Regions from separate parts of the Homo sapiens genome. Here regions 1 and 2 are each linked to region 3. Evidence: fine-mapped expression QTL. A gene starts in region 3. Each other region holds a variant in brackets. All regions are shown on one strand. Distances are from middle to middle.

Region 1 (8,183 bases), 38 kb after region 3:
CAACCCCTCAGGACTTATGCAACTCTATATTTTCATAGCTGCCTTAGTCACTGATTCATTTTTATCTGGACAACCATTTCCTCATCAGTTAGATGGGAGAGGTGGGCTAGATCATTTCTGTTTTCTTCCTATTCTGTGAATTTCAGTTTCTTTTGCTGGAACTTCTTCCTGCCTGCGGACTGTGCCAATCCCTCATGACTGAGTTCTTGGCCCTCCACTTGGCTCTCTATTCTCTCACTCCCATAGAGAAATAATCTATATTCATCTCCATGTGGAGGAATTCACATCTCCATATCTAGTCCAAACTGCTCATTCATCCCTGTCTCTTATTTCCAACTGTCCACACATAGACACCACTTCATCATTTCATACTCAACACTCCCTCAACCCCAACAAGGACTTCTCCCCAACTTCCCTAATTTTTACTCATGATAATACTAGAAGCTTGGGCAAGATTGGGACAGGAAGAGGAAGCTAAGGGCTCTTAAGCTGTATTCTGAGAAAAAAAGTAATGAAGAAGTAAAAGATAGGCTCAGCGTCTGGGGGAGAAGATTTAATAGAGGAGAGAGAGAAAATGAAAGCAGTTAAATCCAAATCCCTCTCTTTCCTAGTAAGTCTTTCCTAACAACAGAATCTACCTTTAAGCCACAAATGGCCCAAGATTGCTGGGAGGGATTGAAATCTTAGAGCAGTGAGGACAGCACCTGGTTGATGTCAATGAGTTCGGATCTTCCTATTTGGTAGGTAATACCCTGGAGTAGATAAAAAGTTAAGTTATAGATGTCACTTCAGACAGTAATCTATGAGAAATGAAGATACTCTCAGATTTCTAGTCTCAAAGAACCAAAATACAAAGGCAAATGTGGCCCTAGTTTTTAAAACCCATAAAATGATAGACTCCAGAATTTAAGGACTGGAGAGCTCCTTGGTCTAGAGTGGACTTTTAAACAAAGGAAAAGTCTGTGGAGCACTTAGGAAAGAAAGCAGCAATCATTATTAGTACTTGGCTGAACTATTTCCTTTCTCCTTTGGGTTAACAGACCAGTAGATAGAAGATTCTCAGGAAATTTGATAAAATATTTTAGGTTGCACTTCCCTGTCTTCAATGTGGGCAGCTTCCTTTTCTTTCATGCCATGACTGTGCTTATAATTGCTTATTCAGTGTTTGACTTCTTCAATAGACTCTGGGTTTGATGAGCTCAGGGTGGGACCACTCCTGACCAGTTCACTGCTGCATCCACAGTTCCTAGCCTTGTAGAGACTGATGAATCAATCAAAGAGCCAATTACTCAATAGGTAGATGGAGAATGTGAGCTGGATGATAAGAGGTAGAATTATAAGTGATTACACAAGTATATTTAAAACATTTAAAAATTTCTGAATTGATGTCACTCTAAAGATTAGCTCTAACTATAAAATCTTAGAAGACAACACAGGGGAAAAGCTTTATGACATTATATTTCACAGTGATTTCTTGGATATGATACCAAAAGCCCAGGCAAGGAAAGAAAATATAGATAAGTTGGATTTTATCAAAATTAAAAAAAAAACTTTTAGGCATCAAAGGACACAATCAACAGAGTGAAAAGGCACCCCATGGAATGGGAGAAAATATTTGAAAATCATTTATCTGATGAGGAATTAATATCCAGAAGATTTAAAGAACTCCTACAACACAACCACCACCAAAAATCCTCATCAAAAAACGGGCCAAGGACTTGAATACACATTTCTCCATGGAGGATACACAAATGGCCAGTAAGCACATGAAAAGATGCTCAACGTCACTCATCAGAGAAATGCAAACCAAAACCACAATGAGAAAACAAACAAAAATAATAAATGTTGATAAGAATCTAGAGAAATTGGAACCCTTGTACATTCTTAGTGGGAATGCAAAATGGTGCAGCACTTGTGGACAACAGTATGGCAATTCCTCAGAAACTTCAGAGGGAGAAATGGGGTTATTGTTTAATGGGTACAAAGTTAGAATTTTACATGATGAAAAAGTTGTGGAGATGGATGGCGATTATGATTGCACAACAATGTGAATGTACTTAAAGCCATAACACATTAATGTATACTTAAAAATGGTTAAAATGGTCAATTTTTTGCTGTATTTTTTTACCACAATTTTTTTAAATGGGTGAAAAAAGCACCTCAGTTATGAGCTCCAGGTTTTTATCCTGGGTTCTTGTATCACTTTGATGAAAATATTACCAGCTTTGCTTTTGATAGAAAAGTTAGAACCAATATAAAGATTGTTAGAATAAGTTTCTAAGGACTTTCAGACTGTGGAACAACAGATCAGAATGAATATTGAAATTAAATAGGAATAACTAGAATTCTGAATATAGGATAAAAATAAGCAAAATAATACACAGGATTAGGAGTGATGACTTTTTTTACATGAAAAAGATCTTGGGGTTTTCATTTCCTAAAATTCCAATATAACTCCATAGCAGTTAAAAAAAAAAAAAGAAACTTTTGCCTATTAGTGAAATTGTGCTCAGATAAAAGAAAGTAATAGTCTCACTGTGCTCTCTGCTGATCAGATAGTACTGGGGCACCAAACACTTTATTTCTTCTTTCAAGGTATGTGTAAACTGTGATAAAACAAGATAAAACTATGAGGGCAGTTAGGGAACTCAAAACCTGATCTCATTGGTCTTAATTGATGGACCAGGGCATTTAGCTTGGGAAAAAGAAAATTAGGAGGGAAGTAATAACTGTTTTCAACTATCTGAAGGGCTGGGATGAGAAAGAAGGACTGCTCTTATTCTGTATTTACTCCTACAGTCAGAATTGGGATGAATGGGCAAAAAACTAAAAGAAGCCTGATTCATTAGGCGGCAGAATTTTCTAAATATTAGAGCTAATGATGTTCAATAGAATGGGCTCCCATTATCGGACGGCTCAAGTGGAGGTGCTGGCCACCTGTCAGGGATACTTAGGGCAGTAGGATGGCCTCTTCCAACACCACGATTCTACCTTTCTTTCAGCTTCTCAGTCTCAAAATCACCACATCGTGTTTGATTCCTACCTCTTCTCCAGTGATTGTCCCCATTATCCAATGAAGTCTTGGGGGTTCTTCCTTCACAGCTGTCTTTGCTTCACCCTTTACTCTCCACTGAATCGCCAGGAGCCTCACCTCCTCAACCCCAGAATAGGTGCGTGCTTCCAGTCAGCTCTTCCAGCCTGTCCTTGCTTCAATCCATCCTGCTTGCCCCTGCCAGACTCACTTGATAAAACACTTAGCATGTAAGTCCTCTGATTAAGACCAAAGAGTGGGTCCCAATTGTTTCCCATATCAAGATGAAATTCCTTTTCTTGGCTTTTGGGGCTATTCATTCTTCCCTCCCTTTTCAATTTCACATTCTATTGTGCACATGATCAATTTTGTTTAAGCTGTTCCCTTCGCTGTCATTTGGCCTGCTTTTCTTTATCCGTCCATTCCCACTGCCATTTCCTCATTCGTGTTGTTCTCTGTGTGTCCTCCACCCCCAGCCTCATTATAGGGTCCACCTCATGTACCACAACCAGCATGAAATCTTTCCTGGCCACCCAAGCTCATATGGATCCTTCTTCCCTCTCATTTATTTAACAGCTATTTACTGATCTTTGATAGAGTGCAGACACTATGCCAGATGCTGGTGAACAAGTGATGAGCAAGAAAAATTTGGCTCCTGACTTCACACAGTGGGCAAGATAAAATACATAATTGCTATGAAGGATACAAACAGAGTCGTGATACAAAATGATGGTGTGTGTGTGTGTGTGTGTGTGTGTGTGTTGGGCATAGGTAGGTATTTGACAGGGTACTCAGAGAAGACCTCTCTGAGGAGATGACAAATAAGCTGAGACCTGAGGGGCATGGAGAAGCCAGCCATTGGGAAAGCCTGGAGTCAAGTATGCCAGGCCAAAGAACTGGTGTGGGTAAGGTCCTGTGGCAAGAAGGCCTTGGCACGCTGGAGATACTGAAATTAGCATGGTTCGGCTGGAGCACAGTGGGTGGGGGAAGGGCATGAAGCAAAACTGGAGAGGCGCTGGGGCCTGGCAGTCCTGCCAAAAATCTTGGGTTTCATACTAATTACATTAGGAAGCCATGAAAGGGTCTTAAGGAAGAAAGTGGTGTGATTCATACTGTTTTTTTTGTTGTTGTTGTTGTTGTTTTAAGACAGAGTCTCACTCTGTCGCCCAGGCTGGAGTGCAGTGGCACGATCTCAGCTCACTGCAGCCTCCGCCTCCTGGGTTCAAGCGATTCTCCTGCCTTAGCCTCCTGAGTAGCTGGGACTGCCGGTGTGTGCCACCAAGCCCCGCTAATTTTTGTATTTTTAGTAGAGACGGGGTTTCACCATGTTGGCCAGGATGGTCTCGATCTCTTGACCTTGTGACCCACCCACCTCGGCCTCCCAAAGTGCAGGGATTACAGGCGTGAGCCACAGTGTCCAGCCAATTCATACTTTTTAAGGTTACTTTGTTTATATTGTGGAGAATAGACTGAAGAGCTAGAGTGAAAATACTGGTTAAAAAACAAACAAACACGTAATAAATGAGGTGAAAGATAGTAACTTCATCTAGAGTGATGAAGAAAAGTGCATGGATTTAAGATATGTTTTGGAAATTGGCATGAAAGGATTTGCTGATGGTTTTACATGAGGAGTAAAGAATTAGGAATGAGTCCCAGGTGTCTGATATGAAAACTAGGGGATGGATATAATGTCATTTACTGTGATGGGGAAGTGGGGT[G/A]TGGAGATAAGATGTGAGAGAAATTCAGAGGTTAAGTTTAAGACATGTTAAGTTTGAGGTGCCTGTCAGATAATTTCTCTCCTGGGCCTGGTTCTTCCTTTGTATGGAAGTGATCCTTGTATTTCCTCATTGGTATTATCACACTTTTAAATAATGATGATTTTATTTTAAAGGACTTGCAGGTAGCAAGCATAACAGGAATGAAGAAAATTCTAGGGCTTTTCCAGCCTCATTGACAAGGAAAAAGCAAACTACTCTTCATTGCAGTGTTGACATTTCAAAACTGGCATTTAATTATTTACATACTTTCATATATTAAGGTACATATACATGTGTATAAGTAAATCTGTATGTGTATATGTGTGTATAAAAGTTTTCAATAGCTCGACTACTCACAGCTATCCTAGAGAATTTTACCAAAGCCCAGGAGATCTTCTGCAGTTTGGAGAACAAAATAAATCACAGTAATCCACCATCCCCTGTAATCAAATACATTTTGACTGAACCCAATAACAATGACTCAGTTTCTAGCAAGGTGCCAGACGCAGCCCTTGTCTTCATTTGACGCTGAGAACCGAGCAGCCAGAAGCCAGTACTCCAGAGCCCGTAAAGCACCGCCAAAAGCGTGGCCTTAGATCACAGATTGATTCATGGGGATGGGCAGGAGTCTCCAGGGAAAACAGCTCATGGGGTAGCTGTTGAGCTTCTATGTGGGAAGTGAGGAAAATGAAAGCTCCTGGAAGCTTGGTAAAGATGAGAAACAAACATGAGCTCCTGGGGTCTTTAATAAAGAGAACTTCGGCTGTAGAAAACAAAAAGATTATTGAAAACTAAATTCACCCTCAACACTAATTAATTGGACACTGGATATAACTGAGATTTGTAAGCTGTTTCTGCCCTTGACCCTGGCTCCAGCCTCTGGAGAATGGAAGAGTGTGGCTAGCACAGAGCTGCGGGTCAGCCCCTCATGAGAGGGAGTTGCTGGTCTAGGTGCAGGTGCTGAGGTATGAGAAACCCAGCCGCCCAGAGCCACACAGCAACACGCCCAGCTGGCCCCGGTGAAGACATGCAGTTTCCTAGGGCTGGGTCTCTTTAACCTGTTCTTTGGAACCCCAGGGTACCCACATAATTGTTCGTGGACACTAAGCAGGTATTTTGCAAGAGAAATCTGGTTTCTTTCGTGTTTGGTGAAATAACTGAATTTTCCCATGCTTTAACTATGTGTGAGGAAATAATTTCTGGTTCTTCTGTTTATTTTCTCTTTCTATGGTCATACATACACTCACCGTCTTCCTCTGACAGTATTGATTACCAAGCACAATTAAGCACTGAGACAGAAAGTTAACAGCTGAAGTGGGGTCACCTATAGGCAGAAAATAGATTCGTGTCTGTTTAACAGTAACCCAAATAAGAAGCCATGTTAAATAGAGACAACTTTTATTACAATCCTTATAGCATACCTTCCTTTTAACATTATTTTTATGATTTAGCTCCCTCCAATAGGAAATGTTTGGCCACCCACTGGTTTTGTGCTTTATATACTTATTGCTTTAAATGTGTTATTAAAATCTTACCACCAAATTAGGATTCCATGACTTTTCTTAAATGTAAGGGTTTGTGACTTTGAAAAAAATTACAGGTCTGAGTTAGAGAAAAGAAAGTGGCAGTGAGGCTCAAGTTGCCTAAACAGCATGGGAAATATGATACAATTTAATGTTATTTCAAGCAAAAGAGATGAGTCTGAGGATTTTGTAGAATAAGCAAATTTTTGCAAGTGATCTTCCTGTGGTTCTCTCACCCCGCCCCCAGGCTATCTTCCACAATCTGATCACCTGATCCTTTGCTTAAAACTTTGAAGTTCAAACTCTTTAGTGGGCCACACTGGGCTCTCTGTGATCCACTCTCTCTCTAGGCTTATTTCTTTTCTTTTTTTTTGAGACGGAGTCTCGCTCTGTCGCCCAGGCTGGAGTGCAGTGGCGCGATCTCGGCTCACTGCAAGCTCCGCCTCCCAGGTTCACGCCATTCTCCTGCCTCAGCCTCCCGAGTAGCTGGGACTACAGGCGCCCGCCACTACGCCTGGCTAATTTTTTGTATTTTTAGTAGAGATGGGGTTTCACTATGTTAGCCAGGATGGTCTCGATCTCCTGACCTCATGATCCGCCCACCTCGGCCTCCCAAAGTGCTGGGATTACAGGCGTGAGCCACCGCGCCCGGCCTAGGCTTATTTCTTACTTCTTTACTTCTTCCTCCCTTAAAGAGGCCATCCCATCAGCAAGCCCTTGCTGTTCCCATTTCCTCTGCTTCAGTGCTCACCACCATCCTCCAGGAATGCTCTCTCCTTTAAGAGTCAGTTCAAAAAATCACCTTTCCTTTGAGGATTCATTGAATTTTCCTTTCTGGCCCATTGCGCCCTGTCCACACCTTCACTGTAGCAATCATCATATTACATCGCAATAACTGGTTTACACACCTGTTTCCACATCCCAGCCTTTGCACAGTTCTTGATACACAGTAGGTGCTCTATAAATATTTGCTAAATAATGAGTCCTCGGGTTAAAATGCAACTTCCCTCTCCTTTCAGCACCCTGAAATTACTCAGAAAAGGAAAAGGAAATGACTGAAGTGTAGACAGTTTAAGCGGAACACAGCAAGTACCCTGCCTGAGGTGCTCCTGGCCACTAGTTAAGGAGAAAGAATAAATATGGAGACTGAGGTCCCAGCACCTCTGTGGAGCTGTTGTGATTTCTGTTTACAACAGCCTGGCTAAGCAATCTGTGGGACCCAGGGCGAAATGGAAATGTGGAGCCCCTATTCAATAATTAAGAACTCCAAACAGTGACAGCGGAGCATTAAACCAAGCCGGAGTCCTGTCCAACTGCACAGGTGGCACAGATGACCACAGTTGCGTTGTGATGATAATATCAAGAAGTATAGAGCGCAGGGAGGCTGGGAGAAATGTTGGATCCATTTTTTAAGGAGTAGCTTTAAATATGTAAAATTGTTTTCAATTTATTTTCTCATGCCGCCTCCTTCATAAGACCCCTATAATTATGTCTGTTTTCATGTATAAGTGCAGAATCGTTTCTAAAGTAAATTATTTTATTTTACATTGTTTCAGGGAAAATGCTACATACTTCTAGTTAGTCCTTAACAAATGCTATGAGCCACACACACTCCACCACTTTCCCCTGAAGTGAACAAGTCACTACTGCATTTTCTCCATTCAGTCCCAAACTTCAGGAGAGGAAAGAGAGAAGATTGGCTGGGCTTTCACAGGAATATGTTAATATGAAACATCTTTCATCACTCTTCCACTGATTTTTAAAAAATCTTGCATCAGTTCTCCATGCACTAGCATCCAGTCTCTCTAAAGGTAATTTTATTTTATAACAATCTTAGTAAATGATAAATTGTTGTATTTAGACCCTAAATTT
Region 2 (8,183 bases), 50 kb before region 3:
GCAGAGCCTTCCTTATCAAAGGGGCATTGGGAGTGTCAGGCACTTACTGCACTGGCTTGTGATGGCACATCACTGGCCCTGCAGGGCGGGGTGAGGAAGCAAGTGATTCGGTAGAGACCTAGGAAAGAAAAAGGGAAACAAAGGCAAAGGCACAGAAAAATTCCCGGTTGTGTAGGGGACAAACTTGCCTCTTGAGATTTCTCTGGTCACCTCTCCCATAGTACCTGATGCCTGCCTCTGTGACAAAACCTGATGTCAGCCTCTGTGGCTGAACCCACAGCTGGAGTCACCCAAAAGCAGGGGCAGAGGAGTTCCTGCAAGGGACTGCCCCAAATGATTCCAGGATGGGGCCAGTTGGGATTCCAAAGAAAGAAGTACTAAAATGTCAAGGTGATTAGTTAAAAGCATTTACTGTATCAGGTGAACTGTATTACAGAGGGGGGCTGGAGAGCATCCTCCCGAAGGACAATGAGACAAGGGATGTCCTACCTAGGTATGTCTGCAATGAGAAAGTCAGGGTATGGAGCTTATAAGAGGGTTTAAGGAGTTTGACTCGGGGCTGGGGCTAGTCTCTTTCAGGGTTTTGGGCAAAAATGCAAACACCTTTATCGGTGCCTGGAAATGTTCAAGGGCCCCACTTGGGTTCAAGCCTGCAGGAGAAAACATATATCTGGCTGGGAGAGTGGTGCAAGTGTTCTACGTTTCCCGGCAGGACCAGAGAAAAAGTGGGGGAAGTTGGAGGACCCTACAATAGTGTTTATTTTATTCCAGGTACTGGTTGAGGCACTTTGTATGTGTATTAACTCATTCTTTCCTCACAACAACCCTATGAGTAGCTACTACTATTATCCCTATTTTATAGATGGAGAAATGGAAACAGAGAGGTTAAGACTCTCGCCCAAAGCCATACAACTAATAAGTGGCAGAACTGGGATTCAGATCCAAGCAGGCTGGTTCAGTGCCATGCTTGTAACCACCATAGTGGTTCACACCTTCTACTGAAATGTACCTTTTTCCCCTCAGTCTCAGACTGTGGATTCTGAAAGGTCAGAAACTTAGATTTACTCATTGTATCTACTCTGCTTAGCTGAGTACCTGGCACATGGTATGTTCTCAACCAATGTATTCTCTTTCCCCTCAGATCCTCCATATTCCTAGGATTCTAGGAGCCCCCTGAACCCTCATAGATTTCATCCCATCATCCCCACTTCAATCCTTACCACCCAACAGGCTTGCTCTCTCATTAGCAGGGTCCCCTACTCAGAGTATTTTTTCTCTTTTCCCTTTCTCCCCTCTCCAAATCCTACGCGGCCTTCCATTTGACAAGGTCCTGCAATCAGAAATATTAACTTATGCCAATGTTAATCATTTATAAGTTATTTCCTCTCTTGGTGGAATTTACTATCCCAAGTGGAAAAAAATTCCAAATCCATTATTTCAGACAATTCAGCAATTCTTTAAAATTGGACTCATGAGACTGTTCCCTTCTGAGACTGTCCCCAGGTCAGGGACTGAATGGGACCTGCTACTTCCTTCAGTCAGTGTGATCACAGCCTCCTGTGGTGGTGTCCCATCTGGGAGCTTCCTCTAACCCTCCTCCCTAAGGACATCGCCCCACCCCCATCACCTTCTCCACTCACTGGGCAGCCAATAGAACAGCAAGGACTGGAGCTCAGCTGTCCTCAGCAGCTGCAGTCCCCTCCCCTGATGGCTAAGCTGCCCACCTGAAATATTCTGCTGGGAGGCATGCAGGGATGTCTGGGGGGCTGTCATGAGGTAAGGTGGTTTGCGATCAGCCTCTTTGAAGAAGTCTGGCTAAGAAGCCATGTGGGGAGAATTGGTGAGGGAAACTTTGACCCTGTCAGAACATAGGAAGCTCAGAGCCTTGTGTCTCCTGAATGAGCCATAAGACCTCTGACTGGCCTCAAATGGCACTACCCAATCTCTCTCATCTCTCCCCATTACCCAAGAACTCTCTGAATGTGGAAATTTCCCCCCAGGCCTTCCTGATGCAATGAAATAAGCATGGGATTAGCACCCAGGCATGAGAATTTGCATTCTGGCCACACCACCTATGGAGTGTGTGCTGGGCATTGTGTAAGCACTCCACGTGTATTAACTCACTGATTCCTTGTGACATCCCTAAGGAGCTGGCAACTGGTATGTCTCTCTCTCAACCTTGGCAGTTCTCCTCCCACCCTGCACTTCTCTCTAGCTGCTGCCTTACAATGCTCTCCCATCTCAGCTAGGCTTCTGCCAAAACCTCTACCTTCTCACACCTTGTTTGCTTCTCATCCCACTGCAATCCTCTCTATTTTGATTTATCGGCAAAGTCCCATAATGACCTCCATGCTGCTAATTTATCTGTGTGTTTTCCTCATTTTATGTCATCTCTCTGTGGCAGTAGATGAAGTTGACTGATATCTCTTATTCAGCTTCCAAGAAACTGTGTTTTCCCCTACATTTTCCTGTTGTCCTTCGAAATCTAGTTCAGACTCCACATCCCTCAGGAAACCATCTTCGATCTCTGCCTGTCTTCTCTCTAGTCGATGACTCTCTCTTTTGTGTTATTATACCTCTGAACACTGTACTTCCCTTCTTTGTTGTACTTATCACATTATACTGTAAATTTTTTAACCCATTTATGTCCTCTATTAGGCAGAGAACTCCTCTGAGGGAAGAAACCGTAATCTATCCTCTATTCCCAGTCTATTATTCATAGTAGGTCCTCAATACATTGCCTATTGCATAAATTCATAAATGGGTAAGTTGCTGAGGAAGGCCAGGTATATGGATAGCTCATTTAACATGTTTGCTAAGGAAAGACAAATGCAACTATAGCTGTTGGTTGGAAACAGGACTAAATGGTAGAAGAGTATGGTTTTGTGTGTTTGTTTTTTTGAGGGATGGCTAAGACCTAAGAGAAGTGGTCCCAGGAGACAGAAGAGGTTTTTAGAAAAGGGGAGAGCAAAGCATATTTGCAGGCTGAGGGGAGAAAGACCATGGAATAGGAGGAAGCCTGAAATGAGTAGGGGAAGTGGTTGAAGCAAGAGACTGTGAGGAAAAGTCAGGATGGGCCCAAGAGCACAGGTGAAGGGATTACTGTGAAGGCGGAGAAGCCAGGGCTCTCTCCTTAACCAGCTGGGCCCCTGCCCTTCGCAGCTGCTGCCAGCGCTTGACCACTCCCTCAGCTGGGATTCCACTTCCTCAGGCATCAGCACACCTATTACCATCTCAGCTGCTGCCACTGCAGAGACCCAGAGAACAGGTGCTGCTTCTCCTCTCAGCAATTCCTGAACTCTGATGGCAGCAGGGTCACCACCCAGATGTTAAAAATGCCTCTCTTAGGCCACAGCATAGAGCCGCCATGTGCCCCTAGAGCCCTTACAGCCGCCCTAGCCCCAGAGCTCCTTCGCTGACTTGCTCCTCTTGCTTAGTATAATTCCCTGCTTAGCTGGAGGGCCTGGCAGGGCCAGAAGACACTGTGGGTGAGACCCTGTTGTTACCAGAAATGGGTCCCGATCCAGACCCCAAGAGAGGGTTCTTGGATCTCACACAAGAAAGAATTCAGGGCAAGTCCATAGAGTAAAGTGATAGCAAGTTTATTAAGAAAGTAAAGGAATAAAAAATGTATACTCCATAGGCAGAGCAGAAGCATGGGCCACTCAGCTGCTTATACTTATTGTTACTTCTTGATTATATGCTAAACAAAAAGTAAATTTTTCGTGAGTTTTCTAGAAAAGGGGTGGGCAATTCCCAGAACTGAGGGTTCCTCCCCTTTTTAGACCATAGAGGGTAACTTCCTGACATTGCCACAGTATTTGTAAACCCTCACGGGGCTGGTGGGAGTGTCTTTTAGCATGCTGATGCATTATAATTAGCATATAATGAGCAATGAGGACGACCAGAGGTCACGCTCATCACCATCTTGGTTTTGGTGGATTTTGGCCGGCTTCTTTACCGCAAACTGTTTTATCAGCAAGGTCTTTGTGACCTACATCTTGTGCCAACCTCCTATCTCATTGTGTAACTAAGAATGCCTTAACCTCC[T/A]GGGACTGCAGCCCAGTAGGTCTCAGCCTTATTTTACCCAGCCCCTATTCAAAATGGAGTTGCTCTGGCTCAAACGCCTCTGACACTATTATTTTTGTATATACTGGAGTATCTGCAGTGGGCATAAAATGATCCAAAAAAACACAAACAAAAAATGACTCTAACTTTATGTGTGTGTTGGTGGTGGTGGTTCCAATGAGGGAAATTTGTTTTTAGATCTGTTAGGTCCAGGGTCAGGGTCCAGCCCATGCAAGGGGACTGGGTGGATAGCTGGAAGAACACTTGTGGGGGCCATAGGTAGGTGAAATACAGCTTTATTCAGTAGCTCTCTCATCAGCAGCTCTCTTACATTGTTTGCTTTGTTTCAGCTGCTTGAGCCAGCCACTCCCATGCACAGCTGTGTAGCCGGCTCTTCTTTGCCTCCAGGGTCAGTAGCTTAACTCTTTTTTCCTCTGGGCACAAGCTGGTTCCTGGCTGTCCCCTGCCTGCTTGCAAGACAGACAGCTTTGGCTCTCTCTCTCTCTCTGGGCACCAGTTTGCTGAGGTATGTCGAGCTATGTCCAGAAGCTGAGCGGATCCATGTTCCCCATGCACAGCATCAGCAGGGCAGTTATACCTTTTCAAACAATAGTGGCTCCAAGGCAAGTACGAACTTACACAAACAGGTTGTATAAAAAGTGGAGTATGCGCCTGCACCCTAAACTTGCTGAGTCATTCTGGTCCAGATGTCCACCTCAGTCTATTGTTGACCAAAGCACATCCATGTACTTTACACTCCACCCCCTAAGCTGAGGGAGACATAGATTTTAGACACATAGGTCCAATACACGGGTTTGGCACATAAGCCCCTGATTCACACGTCTGACACATAAGCTTTCGGCCCACAGGCCCGATACATACACATATGCTTGACACATAAGCCTGGCACATAGGCTTTGGGCATGCAAGCCCAATATACACACATAGACTTGATACATAAGCCTGGGAACACAGGCCTGACACACAGGCCTGATACATAAACATAGGCTTCTGGGCACACAGGCCCATTACATACATAGGCCCTGATAAACTGCCCAGCTATTGGTGCAGACTACCTTAGGTGTCACCTCCTTGGTGATTACCATTTACATTGCCCTGAGTTCAGCTCATTAGCTACTCTGTCTACACCTGATTTCAAACCATGTGGTGTCAGAACTAGGCTGGACTGCACCAGCAGTCCAGACAGCAGTAGCACCCTGGCTAGACCTAGCTATGTACCATGCCCTATCAGGAATGGGAGGGCACCCTTCCTTAAACAGTGATGGCTCAGGGTCTAGGGGTGCCTCAGGCCCCATGGCCTCATCTTGCATTAGGACTACAGGCCCTAAAACCTCTACTGCTAAGGGACTTGTACTCAGAGTACTCCACTGTTCCAAGTAGACACCCCACTTCACTAAAGTGGATGTCTGTGCCATTCCTGTCTGGCAGGGGTAGTTACCCATGAATGCACCCATCCCACTATTGGGTAAGTCATCCAGACGATGACTGTAGCCCATCCTGCCACACTCTTATGAGCCCGAAGGGCAGCATATGCAGTTGCTAACCACTTTCCCAGTCCGGGGGGTTGTTACCCATGAATGTACCCATCCTGGCACTTTGGTCAGTTCTCTTATCAAACAGAAAAGGCTTTACACTTTTGCCTGACTGCAGCAGGTATTTTTTGAACCGGAGCACTTGGGTGGGACTGGGTTGCACAGCAACGTCCTTCTCCTGAATGACTTGCACTAAGTCTGTACATGACTGCCGACATTACTTGCTTAACTCCCACAACTCAGTAGGGGCACCGGGACTATAGGAAATGTGTTCCATCACAACTGGGGAGGGTCCCTGGGCTCACCCTTGGGGCCCAACAGCTGTCCATGCTCTATTTTCAGACGGATCACTGGGCAAGCCTGCAACAGAAGTTCTTCCTCCTCCCTGCACTGTGTCTCACAGGGATTGGGCGTGCACTTCCTGCAGCACAGTCACAAACGCCCATCTGACTCTGCTGGCAAAGGCATGTTCCTCCTTGGTGTTGTGCACCTCCAGGTACTTCAGGGCCTTCCCCATACTCATGGGGGCCCTGTCCATTGCCTCTCACATTTCCACTAGGGCCCATCCAAGCAGCACCACTGCCACTGGGTACCACACCTCATCCTGCCAATGTCACCAATTGTTAGATCCAGGGTCAGGGTCCAGCCCATGCTTAGGTCTGAGGGGAGTGGGTGGATAGCTGAAAGAACACTTCGGGCGGCCATGTGTAGGTGAAATATGGCTTTATTCAGTAGCTCTCTCATCAGCAGCTCTCTTACACTGTATGCTCTGTTTCAGCTGCTTGAGCCGGCCACTTCCATGCAGAGCTGCACGGCTGACTCTCCCTTGCTTTCAGGGTCAGCAGCTTAACTCTTTCTCTGGGCAAAAGCTGGTTCCTGGCTCCCACCTGCCTGCCTGCAAGACAGACATCTTTGGCTCTCTCTCTCTTTCTCTGGGTGCCAGTGTGCTGAGCCATGTTGAGCCATGCCCAAGAGCTGAGCCAAGCCATGTCCCCTGTGTACAGCATCAGCAGGACAATTATACCTTTTCAAACAACAGTGGCTCCAAGCCAGGTATGAGCTTACACAAACAGGTTATATAACAGGTGGAGTAAGCGCCTGCACCCTAAACTCTATGAGTCACTCTAGCCCGGATGTCTGCCTCAGCCTACTGTTCACCAGAGCACATCCAGGTACCTTACAAGATCAGATTTCAATCAGGAAGTTCTTCACTCCAGCAAATGCACTATATATATTGAGTCAGAAAACAAATATGGGTCACTGAATGCTCAGAGCAGTGAAAATAGTTGACTGGAGCTGCAGCTCTTTGCAATTTAAGAGATAGAAGCTGCTCCAGATTAATAATCAGGGAAGGTAGACAGAATTTTGCAGAGCTTTATATTCAATTATTTATTTAACAAATATTTGAGTCTTGCTATGTGCCAAATACTGTGCTGGACACTAAACATAGAACAGTCAATAAAATAGACAAAATCACTGCCCTCGAGGAGCTTAACCACCTAGCATGATGATGTCAGAGGTGTTTAAACCAGAGCAATTCCATCTTGAATAGGCCCTGGATAAAATAGGGCTGAGATCTACTAGGATGCATTCCCAGGAGGTTAAGACATTCTAAGTCACAGGATGAGACAGGAGGTCGGCACAAGATACAGGTCATAAAGACCTTGCTGATAAAACAGGCTGCATTAAAGAAGCCGGCCCAAACCCACCAAAATCAAAAGGGTGACAAGAGTGACTTCTGATAGTCCACTGCTACACTCCCACCAGCGCCATGACAGTTTACAGATGCCATGGCAACACCAAGAAGTTACCCTATATGGTCTAAAAAGAGGAGGAACCCTCAGCTACCGGAATTGCCCAACCCTTTCCCAGAAAACTCATGAATAATCCATCCCTTGTTTAGCATATAATCAAGAAATAACCATAAAAATGGGCAACCAGCAGCCCTTGGGGCTGTTCTGCCTATGGAGTAGCCATTCTTCATTTCTTTACTTTCTTAATAAACTTGCTTTCATCTTACTCTATGGATTTGCCTCGAATTCTTTCTTGAGTGAGATCCAAGAACCCTCTCTTGGGGTCTGGATTGGGACCCCTTTCCAGGAACAAGGAGACTAAAAATAAACATCTTGTGAAGGAAAAATAAATCTCAGGATCCCAAGATCACTAAGCCAAAGGGAAAAGTCAAGCTGGGAACTGCATCAGGCAAACCTGCCTCCCATTTTATTCCTAAATAAGATAGTTACAAAGATAAAAAAGCCACATACCTCCTTCATGATTTGACCACTACGAAATTCCTTGTGAGCCTCAAGATCTTTACCCTAAAAGGGTTCTGTTGAGTTTTACCCTGACAATGTAAATTGATAGCTTATCCTCACAGGTAGGACGAAGGACAGAACTCTAAGTCATCGCTCTGCTCACCTGAGACAAATGCATATCTGATTGCTTCCTCTGATGTAAAAATGCAGATTTACTGAGCTAGACTCTTTTTCTACCCCCACCCTCATCATGTGTAAATTTTGTATTCGGTGAAAGGCTGCTCAAAAATCAAAAGTACACAACTGT
Region 3 (8,183 bases):
TCATAGTTATACTGGCCACTAGATTCTAAATATTTTCTATAGGTAAGTTTGAAAATTAGGCACCAAGCTTCCTGACAACCAAGACAAAATTGAAGGAAAAGTAATCTTCATACTTCTTAATGCTTGTTCTAATTCTAACACTCTAAACCAAATTTCTCAGGAGGAGATTTATAAAGGAAGCAATAAATGATGTAATGAGCAATGGCTCAACAACATTCCTATGATATATCCTATAATTTCATTTGGCAAGTATTTATGGAGTACTTACTACAAGCCAGGCACTGTGCTCACCACTGGGGAAAAAAATGTGAATGTGGTTGTTTCTTATCTAATCTCATTATTAAAACTGAGTTTTTACATAATATTAAATGCAATCCTCTGAAGACAATTTGGCTGGGAAAGGGCTTATTTCCCGAGCCATCCCTGCCTGGTAGTTTAAAACCAGGGTCAAAATAACAGCTACTCAGTGTTCCCCTGCTTCCTGCAACCACCCTAACACCCCCACCCACACGGTCCTACCCTGGGTCAGGACTTCCAGTCTCTCTCTTTCTCTCTCTCTCTCTCTCTCTCTTTTTTTTTTTTTTTTTTTTTTTGAGATGGAATCTCACTTTGCCGCCCAGGCTGGAGGGCAGTGGTGCAATCTCGGCTCACTACAACCTCTGCCCCCAGGTTCAAGCGATTCTCCTGCCTCAGCCTCTCGAGTAGCTGGGATTACAGATGTGTGCCACCACACCCGGCTAATTTTTGTATTTTTGGTAGAGACAGCGTTTCACCATGTTGCCCAGGATGGTTTCAAACTCCTGACCTCAGGTGATCTGCCTGCTTTAGCCTCCCAAAGTGCTGGGATTACAGGCGTGAGCCACCGCGCCCGGCCCAGCCTCTTTTAAATTGCAGCTCACTGCCACTACTATCACACACAAAATACATCTGGACTCCCCATGGTTTGTCTCACATGTGTTGACAAACAGTGCTTTTAACAACCACATGAAATCAGCTATTTTCCACCCTCACTCTGGTTTCTTTTGGAGATCTGCTGCTAAGTTGTTCCCCACACTTCCCCACACTCCCCCTCCAACAGGACACATGAGCCCTGACAGGACCATTGCTGTATTAGTCCGTTTTCACACTGCTATAAAGATACTACAATTTATAAACAAAGGAGTAAATTTACTCACAGTTCTGCATGGCTGAGGACAGGGGGAGGCCTCAGGAAACTTATAATCATGGCAGAAGGGGAAGCAGGCACCTTTTTCACAAGTTGGCAGACCAGAGAGGAGAAAGAAGGAGGAATTTCCAAAAACTTATAAAACCATCAGATCTCCTGTGTGGAGAGAGAGATCCTTCTTTCTCTTCTTATAAAGCCATCAATCCTACTGGATTAGGACCTCACATTTATATCTTCACTTAACCAAAATTGCTACTGGAAAGGGGTCCTGATCCAGACTCCAAGAGAGAGTTCTTGGACCTCGGGCAAGAAAGAATTTGGGGCGAGTCCATAAAGTGAAAGCAAGTTTATTAGAGAAAAAGAGAAACAAAAGAATGGCTACTCCATAGACAGAGCAGGGGCATGGGCTGCTCAACTGAAAATACTTATGGTTATTTCTTAATTATATGCCAAACAAGGGGTGGATTATTCATGAATTTTCTGGGAAAGGAGTGGGATTTCCTGGAACTGAGGGTTCCTCCCCACTTTAGGCCATATAGGGTAACTGCTGGCCCCGACATTCGTAAATTGTCATAGTGCTGATGGGAGTGTCTTTTAGCATGCTAATGCATTATAATTAACGTAAAATGAGCAGTGAGTTTGACCATAGGTCACTTCCATCAACATCTTGCATTTGGTTGGTGTTGGCCAGCTTCTTTACCACTTCCTGTTTTATCAGCAGGGTCTTTTTGACTGGTTTCTTGTGATACCAGTCCTGCTGACCTCCCCCCTCATCCTGTGACTGAGAATGCCTAACCTCCTGGGAATGCAGCCCAGTAGGTCTCAGCCTCATTTTACCCAGCCGCTATTCAAGATGGAGTCACTATGGTTCAAATGCCTCTGACAGAATCACCTTCTAAAAGTCCTATGTCCAAATGCAGTCACTTAGTGGGTACGAATTTGGCGGGGGACACAACTGAGTCCATAGCAAACAGTATTCGATTTTTAATCACATCAGCACACACAATAAGACTCTGAAAAGTGAGTCCCTTGGCTGGGCTAGGGAGAAAATTGTGACAATATGTAGTGTTCCAAAATGACCCTCCTCCCTGCATCAGGGAGGGGAGCACTCAGAACCTTCCAGCTTGGTGAACAGAATTTGTTCTCAGGCCAGGAGCCATGCTCTGTAAGTATGTTGTCTTTACATCTGGCCCAGTTTGATCTTTGGAGATAGACACATAGTGGGTCCCAGATTGTGTCCTGTTGCAAAGATCTGGAAACACAGGCTTGGGATACCTGTATATCAACAGAAACCAGACTAGCAGGTGGTAAGGCTGGCATTGTTCTGTGTTCTTAGGTTTTTTTTTGTTTTTTTTTTGTAGACGGAGTCTTGCGCTGTTGCCCAAGCTGGAGTCGTGTGGCGCGATCTCGGCTCACTGCAAGCTCCGCCTCCCGGGTTCACGCCATTCTCCTGCCTCAGCCTCCTGAGTAGCTGGGACTACAGGTGCCCGCCACCACGCCTGGCTAATTTTTTTTTTTTTTTTTTTTTGTATTTTTAGTAGAGACGTGGTTTCACCGTGTTAGCCAGGATGGTCTCGATCTCCTGACCTCATGATCTACCCGCCTCGGCCTCCCAAAGTGCTGGGATTACAGGCGTGAGCCATGGCGCCTCTTAGGTTCTTAATCACTGGGACACCCACAGGCAAGGCCTGGCTTTTTCCACAAGAAGTATTCTGGATGGAAGTAAACACATCAGTGACCTGAAAGTTCTACATGATTACAATGACTTAAGCTTGAGAATTTTTTTAAAAACAGAGAAGGGAGTAGTAAATGACTAAATATAAAGCACCTAGTGCTGTGTTTCGCAAATGGCAATCACTCGGCAGGTGTCTCAGCTCCTCGCTGCAGCAACCAGGCTTCCAGGACTGGAAGGAAGTCTTCTACATTCAAAACTAGACTCAAACTACTCCCCTCCACCACCCAGTTCTACTCCTGCGCTCGCGATCCTCCTGCCTGGCAAACTCCATGGCCCGACAGATTCACTACCACTCCACTGCCGGACCAGGCACGTCCGTGGGCCATCCACGCCTGGAAAACGGCTGGCTGGGCCGGAGGGGCGAGGCCCGCAGGCGAGGGGGGCGGGTACAAGCCACTTCTTGGGAGCCGCGGTACGCGCAGCCTTGTGGGAGTTGTAGTTTCCGCAGCTCTGAGTCTCCAGGCGAGGTGTCACCACAGGACTCGTTTTCCCGTGCTCCTGTGCGCGGGTCCACTTGGGACGGGTCCCTGAGTAGGTGAGGAGGTGGGTAGGAGCTTGCTTATAGAAAAGTGGAATCGAGTAGTCCTTGCTGGTGGAGCCGCTGCCGCCAGGGAACTCAGGGCCGGCTCCTGTTCCTTCAAGAGTGCTGGAGGCCAAACTTGAAATACAAGTTTAATGTTCCTCGTCGGGCAAAAGATAAGGATCCGATCTCCCCCGGCCCGGTGTGCAGCAGGAGCGACCAACCCCGACCCGGGTTAAAACTCCCAGGGACTCTTCGCTGCTGCCACCTCTTGTTCTCTCCCCCGTTCCCACTCGGGGTCTCCCTCAGGGCCGGGAGGCACAGCGGTCCCTGCTTGCTGAAGGGCTGGATGTACGCATCCGCAGGTTCCCGCGGACTTGGGGGCGCCCGCTGAGCCCCGGCGCCCGCAGAAGACTTGTGTTTGCCTCCTGCAGCCTCAACCCGGAGGGCAGCGAGGGCCTACCACCATGATCACTGGTGTGTTCAGCATGCGCTTGTGGACCCCAGTGGGCGTCCTGACCTCGCTGGCGTACTGCCTGCACCAGCGGCGGGTGGCCCTGGCCGAGCTGCAGGAGGCCGATGGCCAGTGTCCGGTCGACCGCAGCCTGCTGAAGTTGAAAATGGTGCAGGTCGTGTTTCGACACGGGGCTCGGAGTCCTCTCAAGCCGCTCCCGCTGGAGGAGCAGGTGAGAGGTCGGCCCGGGCTGGGGCTGGTGGGGCGAGGACCGTGTGCCAGGCCAGGAGTCTCGCCCTGACACACATCTTCAGAGCTTTACTCGCGCGGAGCGGGGCTCGGGTTGGGTCCAGAAGAAGGGAAAACAGCAGTAGCCAGTGACTCCCCAGGCTCTTGAGCAAAGGACCTGCTGGGGTTAGGACAGCCCCGGAACTTCCAGTTTTGCCCTGATGGCGCAGCCATCAGTAAGCGCTGCTTAAGACGCATGGGAGTCGCCTGGGGATCCTGCTACGTTGCAGATTCTGATTCAGCAGGTGTGGAGTAGTGCCCCAGGTCAGCATTTCTATTAAGGGTCTAGGTGAACTTGAATACAAGGGTGCAGTGCACTTCTGTGTGACCATTTTGAAGGTGGTTTGTCAGAGCTGAAGGGCTGAAGGGACTTTAGTGATAGGAACCACTCTTAACTGAGATTACAGTGGATAAGAGGTCGTTGCCTTTGGAAACAAACTTTATAACTGCTTTTTCTCAGGGTTTGCTGGAGGCCATTTGAGATCTCCTGAAGTTTTTTTTTGTAACAAGTGTTGTATTCTAGGGTTCTCCTTTTCTATTTAAGGTTACTAAACCTATAGTGGGAGGGATCTGAGGTCGGAACAAATTTAAAATGGGCTAGTCTGTGGCAGTAATGTTTTAAAAATCTGTCTGGTTTTGTCAGGATAATTATGACTAAAGCACAAATAGTTTAAAAAAAAATGATTATCTTTCCTGGATGTGACTTTTTATAGCAGAAAGGCCTAGTGAAGAGGAACAGGCAACCTGAAATCCCCAAACTCCCAGGTATTACACCTGTGGAGTGCTTTTGTATCGTTGGTCTTCCAGGTTGATGTTGGAGGAGGTCGAAAAGATTGTCCAAAATTGATGTTAGGTATACTCTTCATAATAACAGTTGCTTTCTAGAAACCTTCAGGATTGTGTCTTTACATTGTACAACTGGAAACCCATTTTTCAAGGTTGGCCGCACATGAAATTAAACTTCTAAAGCATTTTCCACATAAATAAATACATTTGGAAGGCACTTAATTCTATTACCAGGTTTCTAGTTAGCCTTACTCTGGCTTTACCACTTGCTCTCTGGAACCGGGATTTCTTCTTTCATTTTGATTCTTTGATTTTTTTTTCAGTCTCTTACTTTGCCTTTTTATATTAGATCACTAAATTTTCCTTATGATTTTGTATACAGCCCATCTCTGATGCTCCCCTTCCCCCAATTCTTCTCTATTTATTCTTGGTACAGAAGGACTGGGGAATCACATGTAGGAATATATATTATATTCACGTAGAAGACAAAAAATTATCAGTGGTAATGGAGAGTAAAACTTTGAATGTGTAGGCCTAGACCTAGTATGTACCATATATATATATATATATATCCTGAAGGCACTAGGAAAAGATTTAGATTCTTTTAGGGCTTTATCCCTAAGGGAGAGTGGGTGTGTGATGGATATCTTCTGCCTTTATGGTTGAAAGGTCCGTTGTAGCTTAGGATACCAGCTTCATTCATCTTCAATCTGTGTAGCCACAAAATAGCATCTGAATCCATGGCCTGACTTTGCAATTAGAGAAGGCATATTACCTCTCCTTTCTGCTCATATTCTCCAGACTTTAGACAGATGCTTTAAACGTCTTCGGCTCTCTAGTATAAAGTTGTGTGCATGAAAATCAGGGGTGAACCAACTCTCTTTCAATTTAGGCTATGAGCAAATATTAGCCTCTTAAAACTTGTTTCTGGATAGTCTCTGTCCAGTGTTCATTTCAAGATCCAATTTGATAGAGGTTGTTATTGGGATTTTTTTTTTTGAGACAGAATCTTGTTCTGTTGCAAGGCTGGAGTGCAGTGACGCGATCTCGGCTCACCGCAACCTCCGCCTCTCGGGTTTAAGCAATTCTCTTGCCTCAGCCTCCCGAGTAGCTGAGACTATAGGTGCACACCACCAGGCCCGACTAATTTTTGTATTTTTACTAGAGACGAGGTTTCATCATGTTGGCCAGGATGGTCTCGATATCTTGATCTCATGATCCGCCTGCTTCAAGTCTCCCAAAGTGCTGGGATTACAGGCGTGAGCCAGCACCCGGCCGTTATTGGGATTTTTTAATCTTCTTGGTTCTGCTATTAATTATAGTCAGAAGGGACTGCCTGGCAAAAATTTTTTGTCTTTGGTACATGTTTCCTGATTTCTGACTGGTTTATAGATTAATATATGTGACAAGTCACTTCATTCAGCCATCTCACAAATTCTCAGAAAGTAGCATGATTTAAAACTAGATGTTTTGGCTGGGTGTGGTGGCTCATGCCTGTAATCCCAGCACTTTGGGAGGCTGAGGCAGGTGGATCAAGAGGTCAGGAGTTCGAGATCAGCCCGGCCAAAATGGTGAAACCCCATCTCTACTAAAAATACAAAAATTAGCCCGGTGTGGTGGTGGGCGCCTGTAATCCCAGCTACTCGGGAGGCTGAGGCAGGAGAATTGCTTGAACCCGGGAGGCGGAGGTTGCAGTGAGCCAAGATTGGGTCACTGCACTCTACCCTGGGTGATAGAGCAAGACTCCATCTCAAAAACAAAAACAAAAAACTAGTGTTTTATTGGGTTGTTTTCTTATGGCTTGAATGGCTGTTGGTTTAACCTGTTTTGCTAAAAGATTGTGCTTTGGAAATAAAAATATAGAACTTGATTGGCCATTTTTTTTCCTGATCATTAGAGCAGATCCAAATGCACTATCAAAAGAAAAGATTTGGCACTGCTTCCAGGCTTCCCTCAACTCCCCTGGGTGTCAAGATGGCCTCCACCCAGGGAGATTCCTCAGTTTTTATAAAATAAAGTCCAACCTACCCCAGCTTCACTGTTGATTAAGACATTTGGGTCCCTATTTATTTGACAATATAGATGAGCTGGGAAGCATAATGTAAGAATCTTTTATTGCTTAGTACCTTTCCAAAACTCAGCTAAAAGAAGCGGTATTCAAGAAGCATTACATGAGGTCCACCCATTCTTCAGGATCGATGGTTCTTAACCGTGGTGAACATTGGAGTCAACTGGAAAGCTTTAAAAAATACACATGCCAGGGTCTCCCTCCGAAGGATTCTAATTTAATTGGTCCGGGGTATCCAGATAATGTAAAAGACTCTCTGGTGAAGCTTGAGAATTATCTGGACTGAAGAGCATTAAAAAAGTGGAGGCCCCACTTTTTTGGGGGATAATCCAAATGCGGTTATCCCAGGTTGGGACTCAGGCATCAGTAACTTTTAAAAAATGTCCTGGTAATACCAGTATACAGACAAGGTTTAATATGATTGCTTTATTTTAAAATCTACACCTGGGAGGTTTTTGTTTACTTTTATGTAGATTTGTTCTTTTACCTGGAATGTAGTATATCAATCCCAGTACAGAATTGCCTTCGCTGAAATGTGCTTTGGTAAGAGGTTATCTTTCTGTGTTGAGAGAACTAGGAGAAACAATCCCACAGAACTCATTGCTGTGACTGCTGAAAAGATGTTCATTATATTACTCTATCCTCTTTATGAGGACCCTTGGGAGGAATTTGTCTGTTAGCATTAGGAATGGTGTGCTTCTCCTGAACAATTGGCTTGCTTTTTTCTTTAAACTAGTCTAGCTGATCAAGTTTGTTTCTTTATGTAAAAGTCAGGAAGCTGGGTGCCAAGTCTGTGGCCCACCTATAGTAAGTAAACAGATCTTCATGGTGTACATATTTTAGTAACCGTGTTACTGCATCCATTTCTTTGTCCCTACATTTGTTTGCTTTTGTCTTTCTTGCCTACTTTGAATTGGTTGTCTTACTATATTTTAATTTTTGCTATATCTACTTTATTACCCCTTGAAGAGGGGTATACACAAAATAAGTAAAATTATCAAGTTAGTCTTTGCCACTAACTGGGAAGCTTAAGAGCAGGAATGAGAATGAGAGTGTGTATGTGGGGTGGACACTATTATATGAAACTGATGTATCATCCATTCTTGAAAATCTGAAAACTGTACTTTAGACTTGACGTGACCTGGACTCCAGACTCCTAGGAGACGC

Evidence for each region.
Region 1: its variant is fine-mapped to the expression of ACP6 in hypothalamus (GTEx, PIP 0.99).
Region 2: its variant is fine-mapped to the expression of ACP6 in stomach (GTEx, PIP above 0.99).

What each region holds. Positions count from the first base shown.
Region 1 is chr1:147,627,805-147,635,987 of GRCh38, reverse strand. It overlaps a transcript of ACP6 not described here. Among named protein-coding and RNA genes, the nearest start is that of ACP6, 39 kb to the left of the region's middle. The variant G/A (reference allele first, on the strand shown) is at 4,750.
Region 2 is chr1:147,715,763-147,723,945 of GRCh38, reverse strand. The region is part of intron 2 of LOC105371230 (a long non-coding RNA gene); the gene reads left to right. All of the region lies in intron 1 of LOC102723321 (a long non-coding RNA gene), which reads right to left. Among named protein-coding and RNA genes, the nearest start is that of GJA5, 41 kb to the left of the region's middle. The variant T/A (reference allele first, on the strand shown) is at 4,051.
Region 3 is chr1:147,665,753-147,673,935 of GRCh38, reverse strand. It overlaps ACP6 (acid phosphatase 6, lysophosphatidic), which reads left to right and starts at 3,412. Exons shown (of 10, transcript NM_016361.5): 1 at 3,412-4,106. The coding sequence starts at 3,888. RefSeq lists enhancers at 2,950-3,019, 3,460-3,709, 4,350-4,409, 3,621-4,564.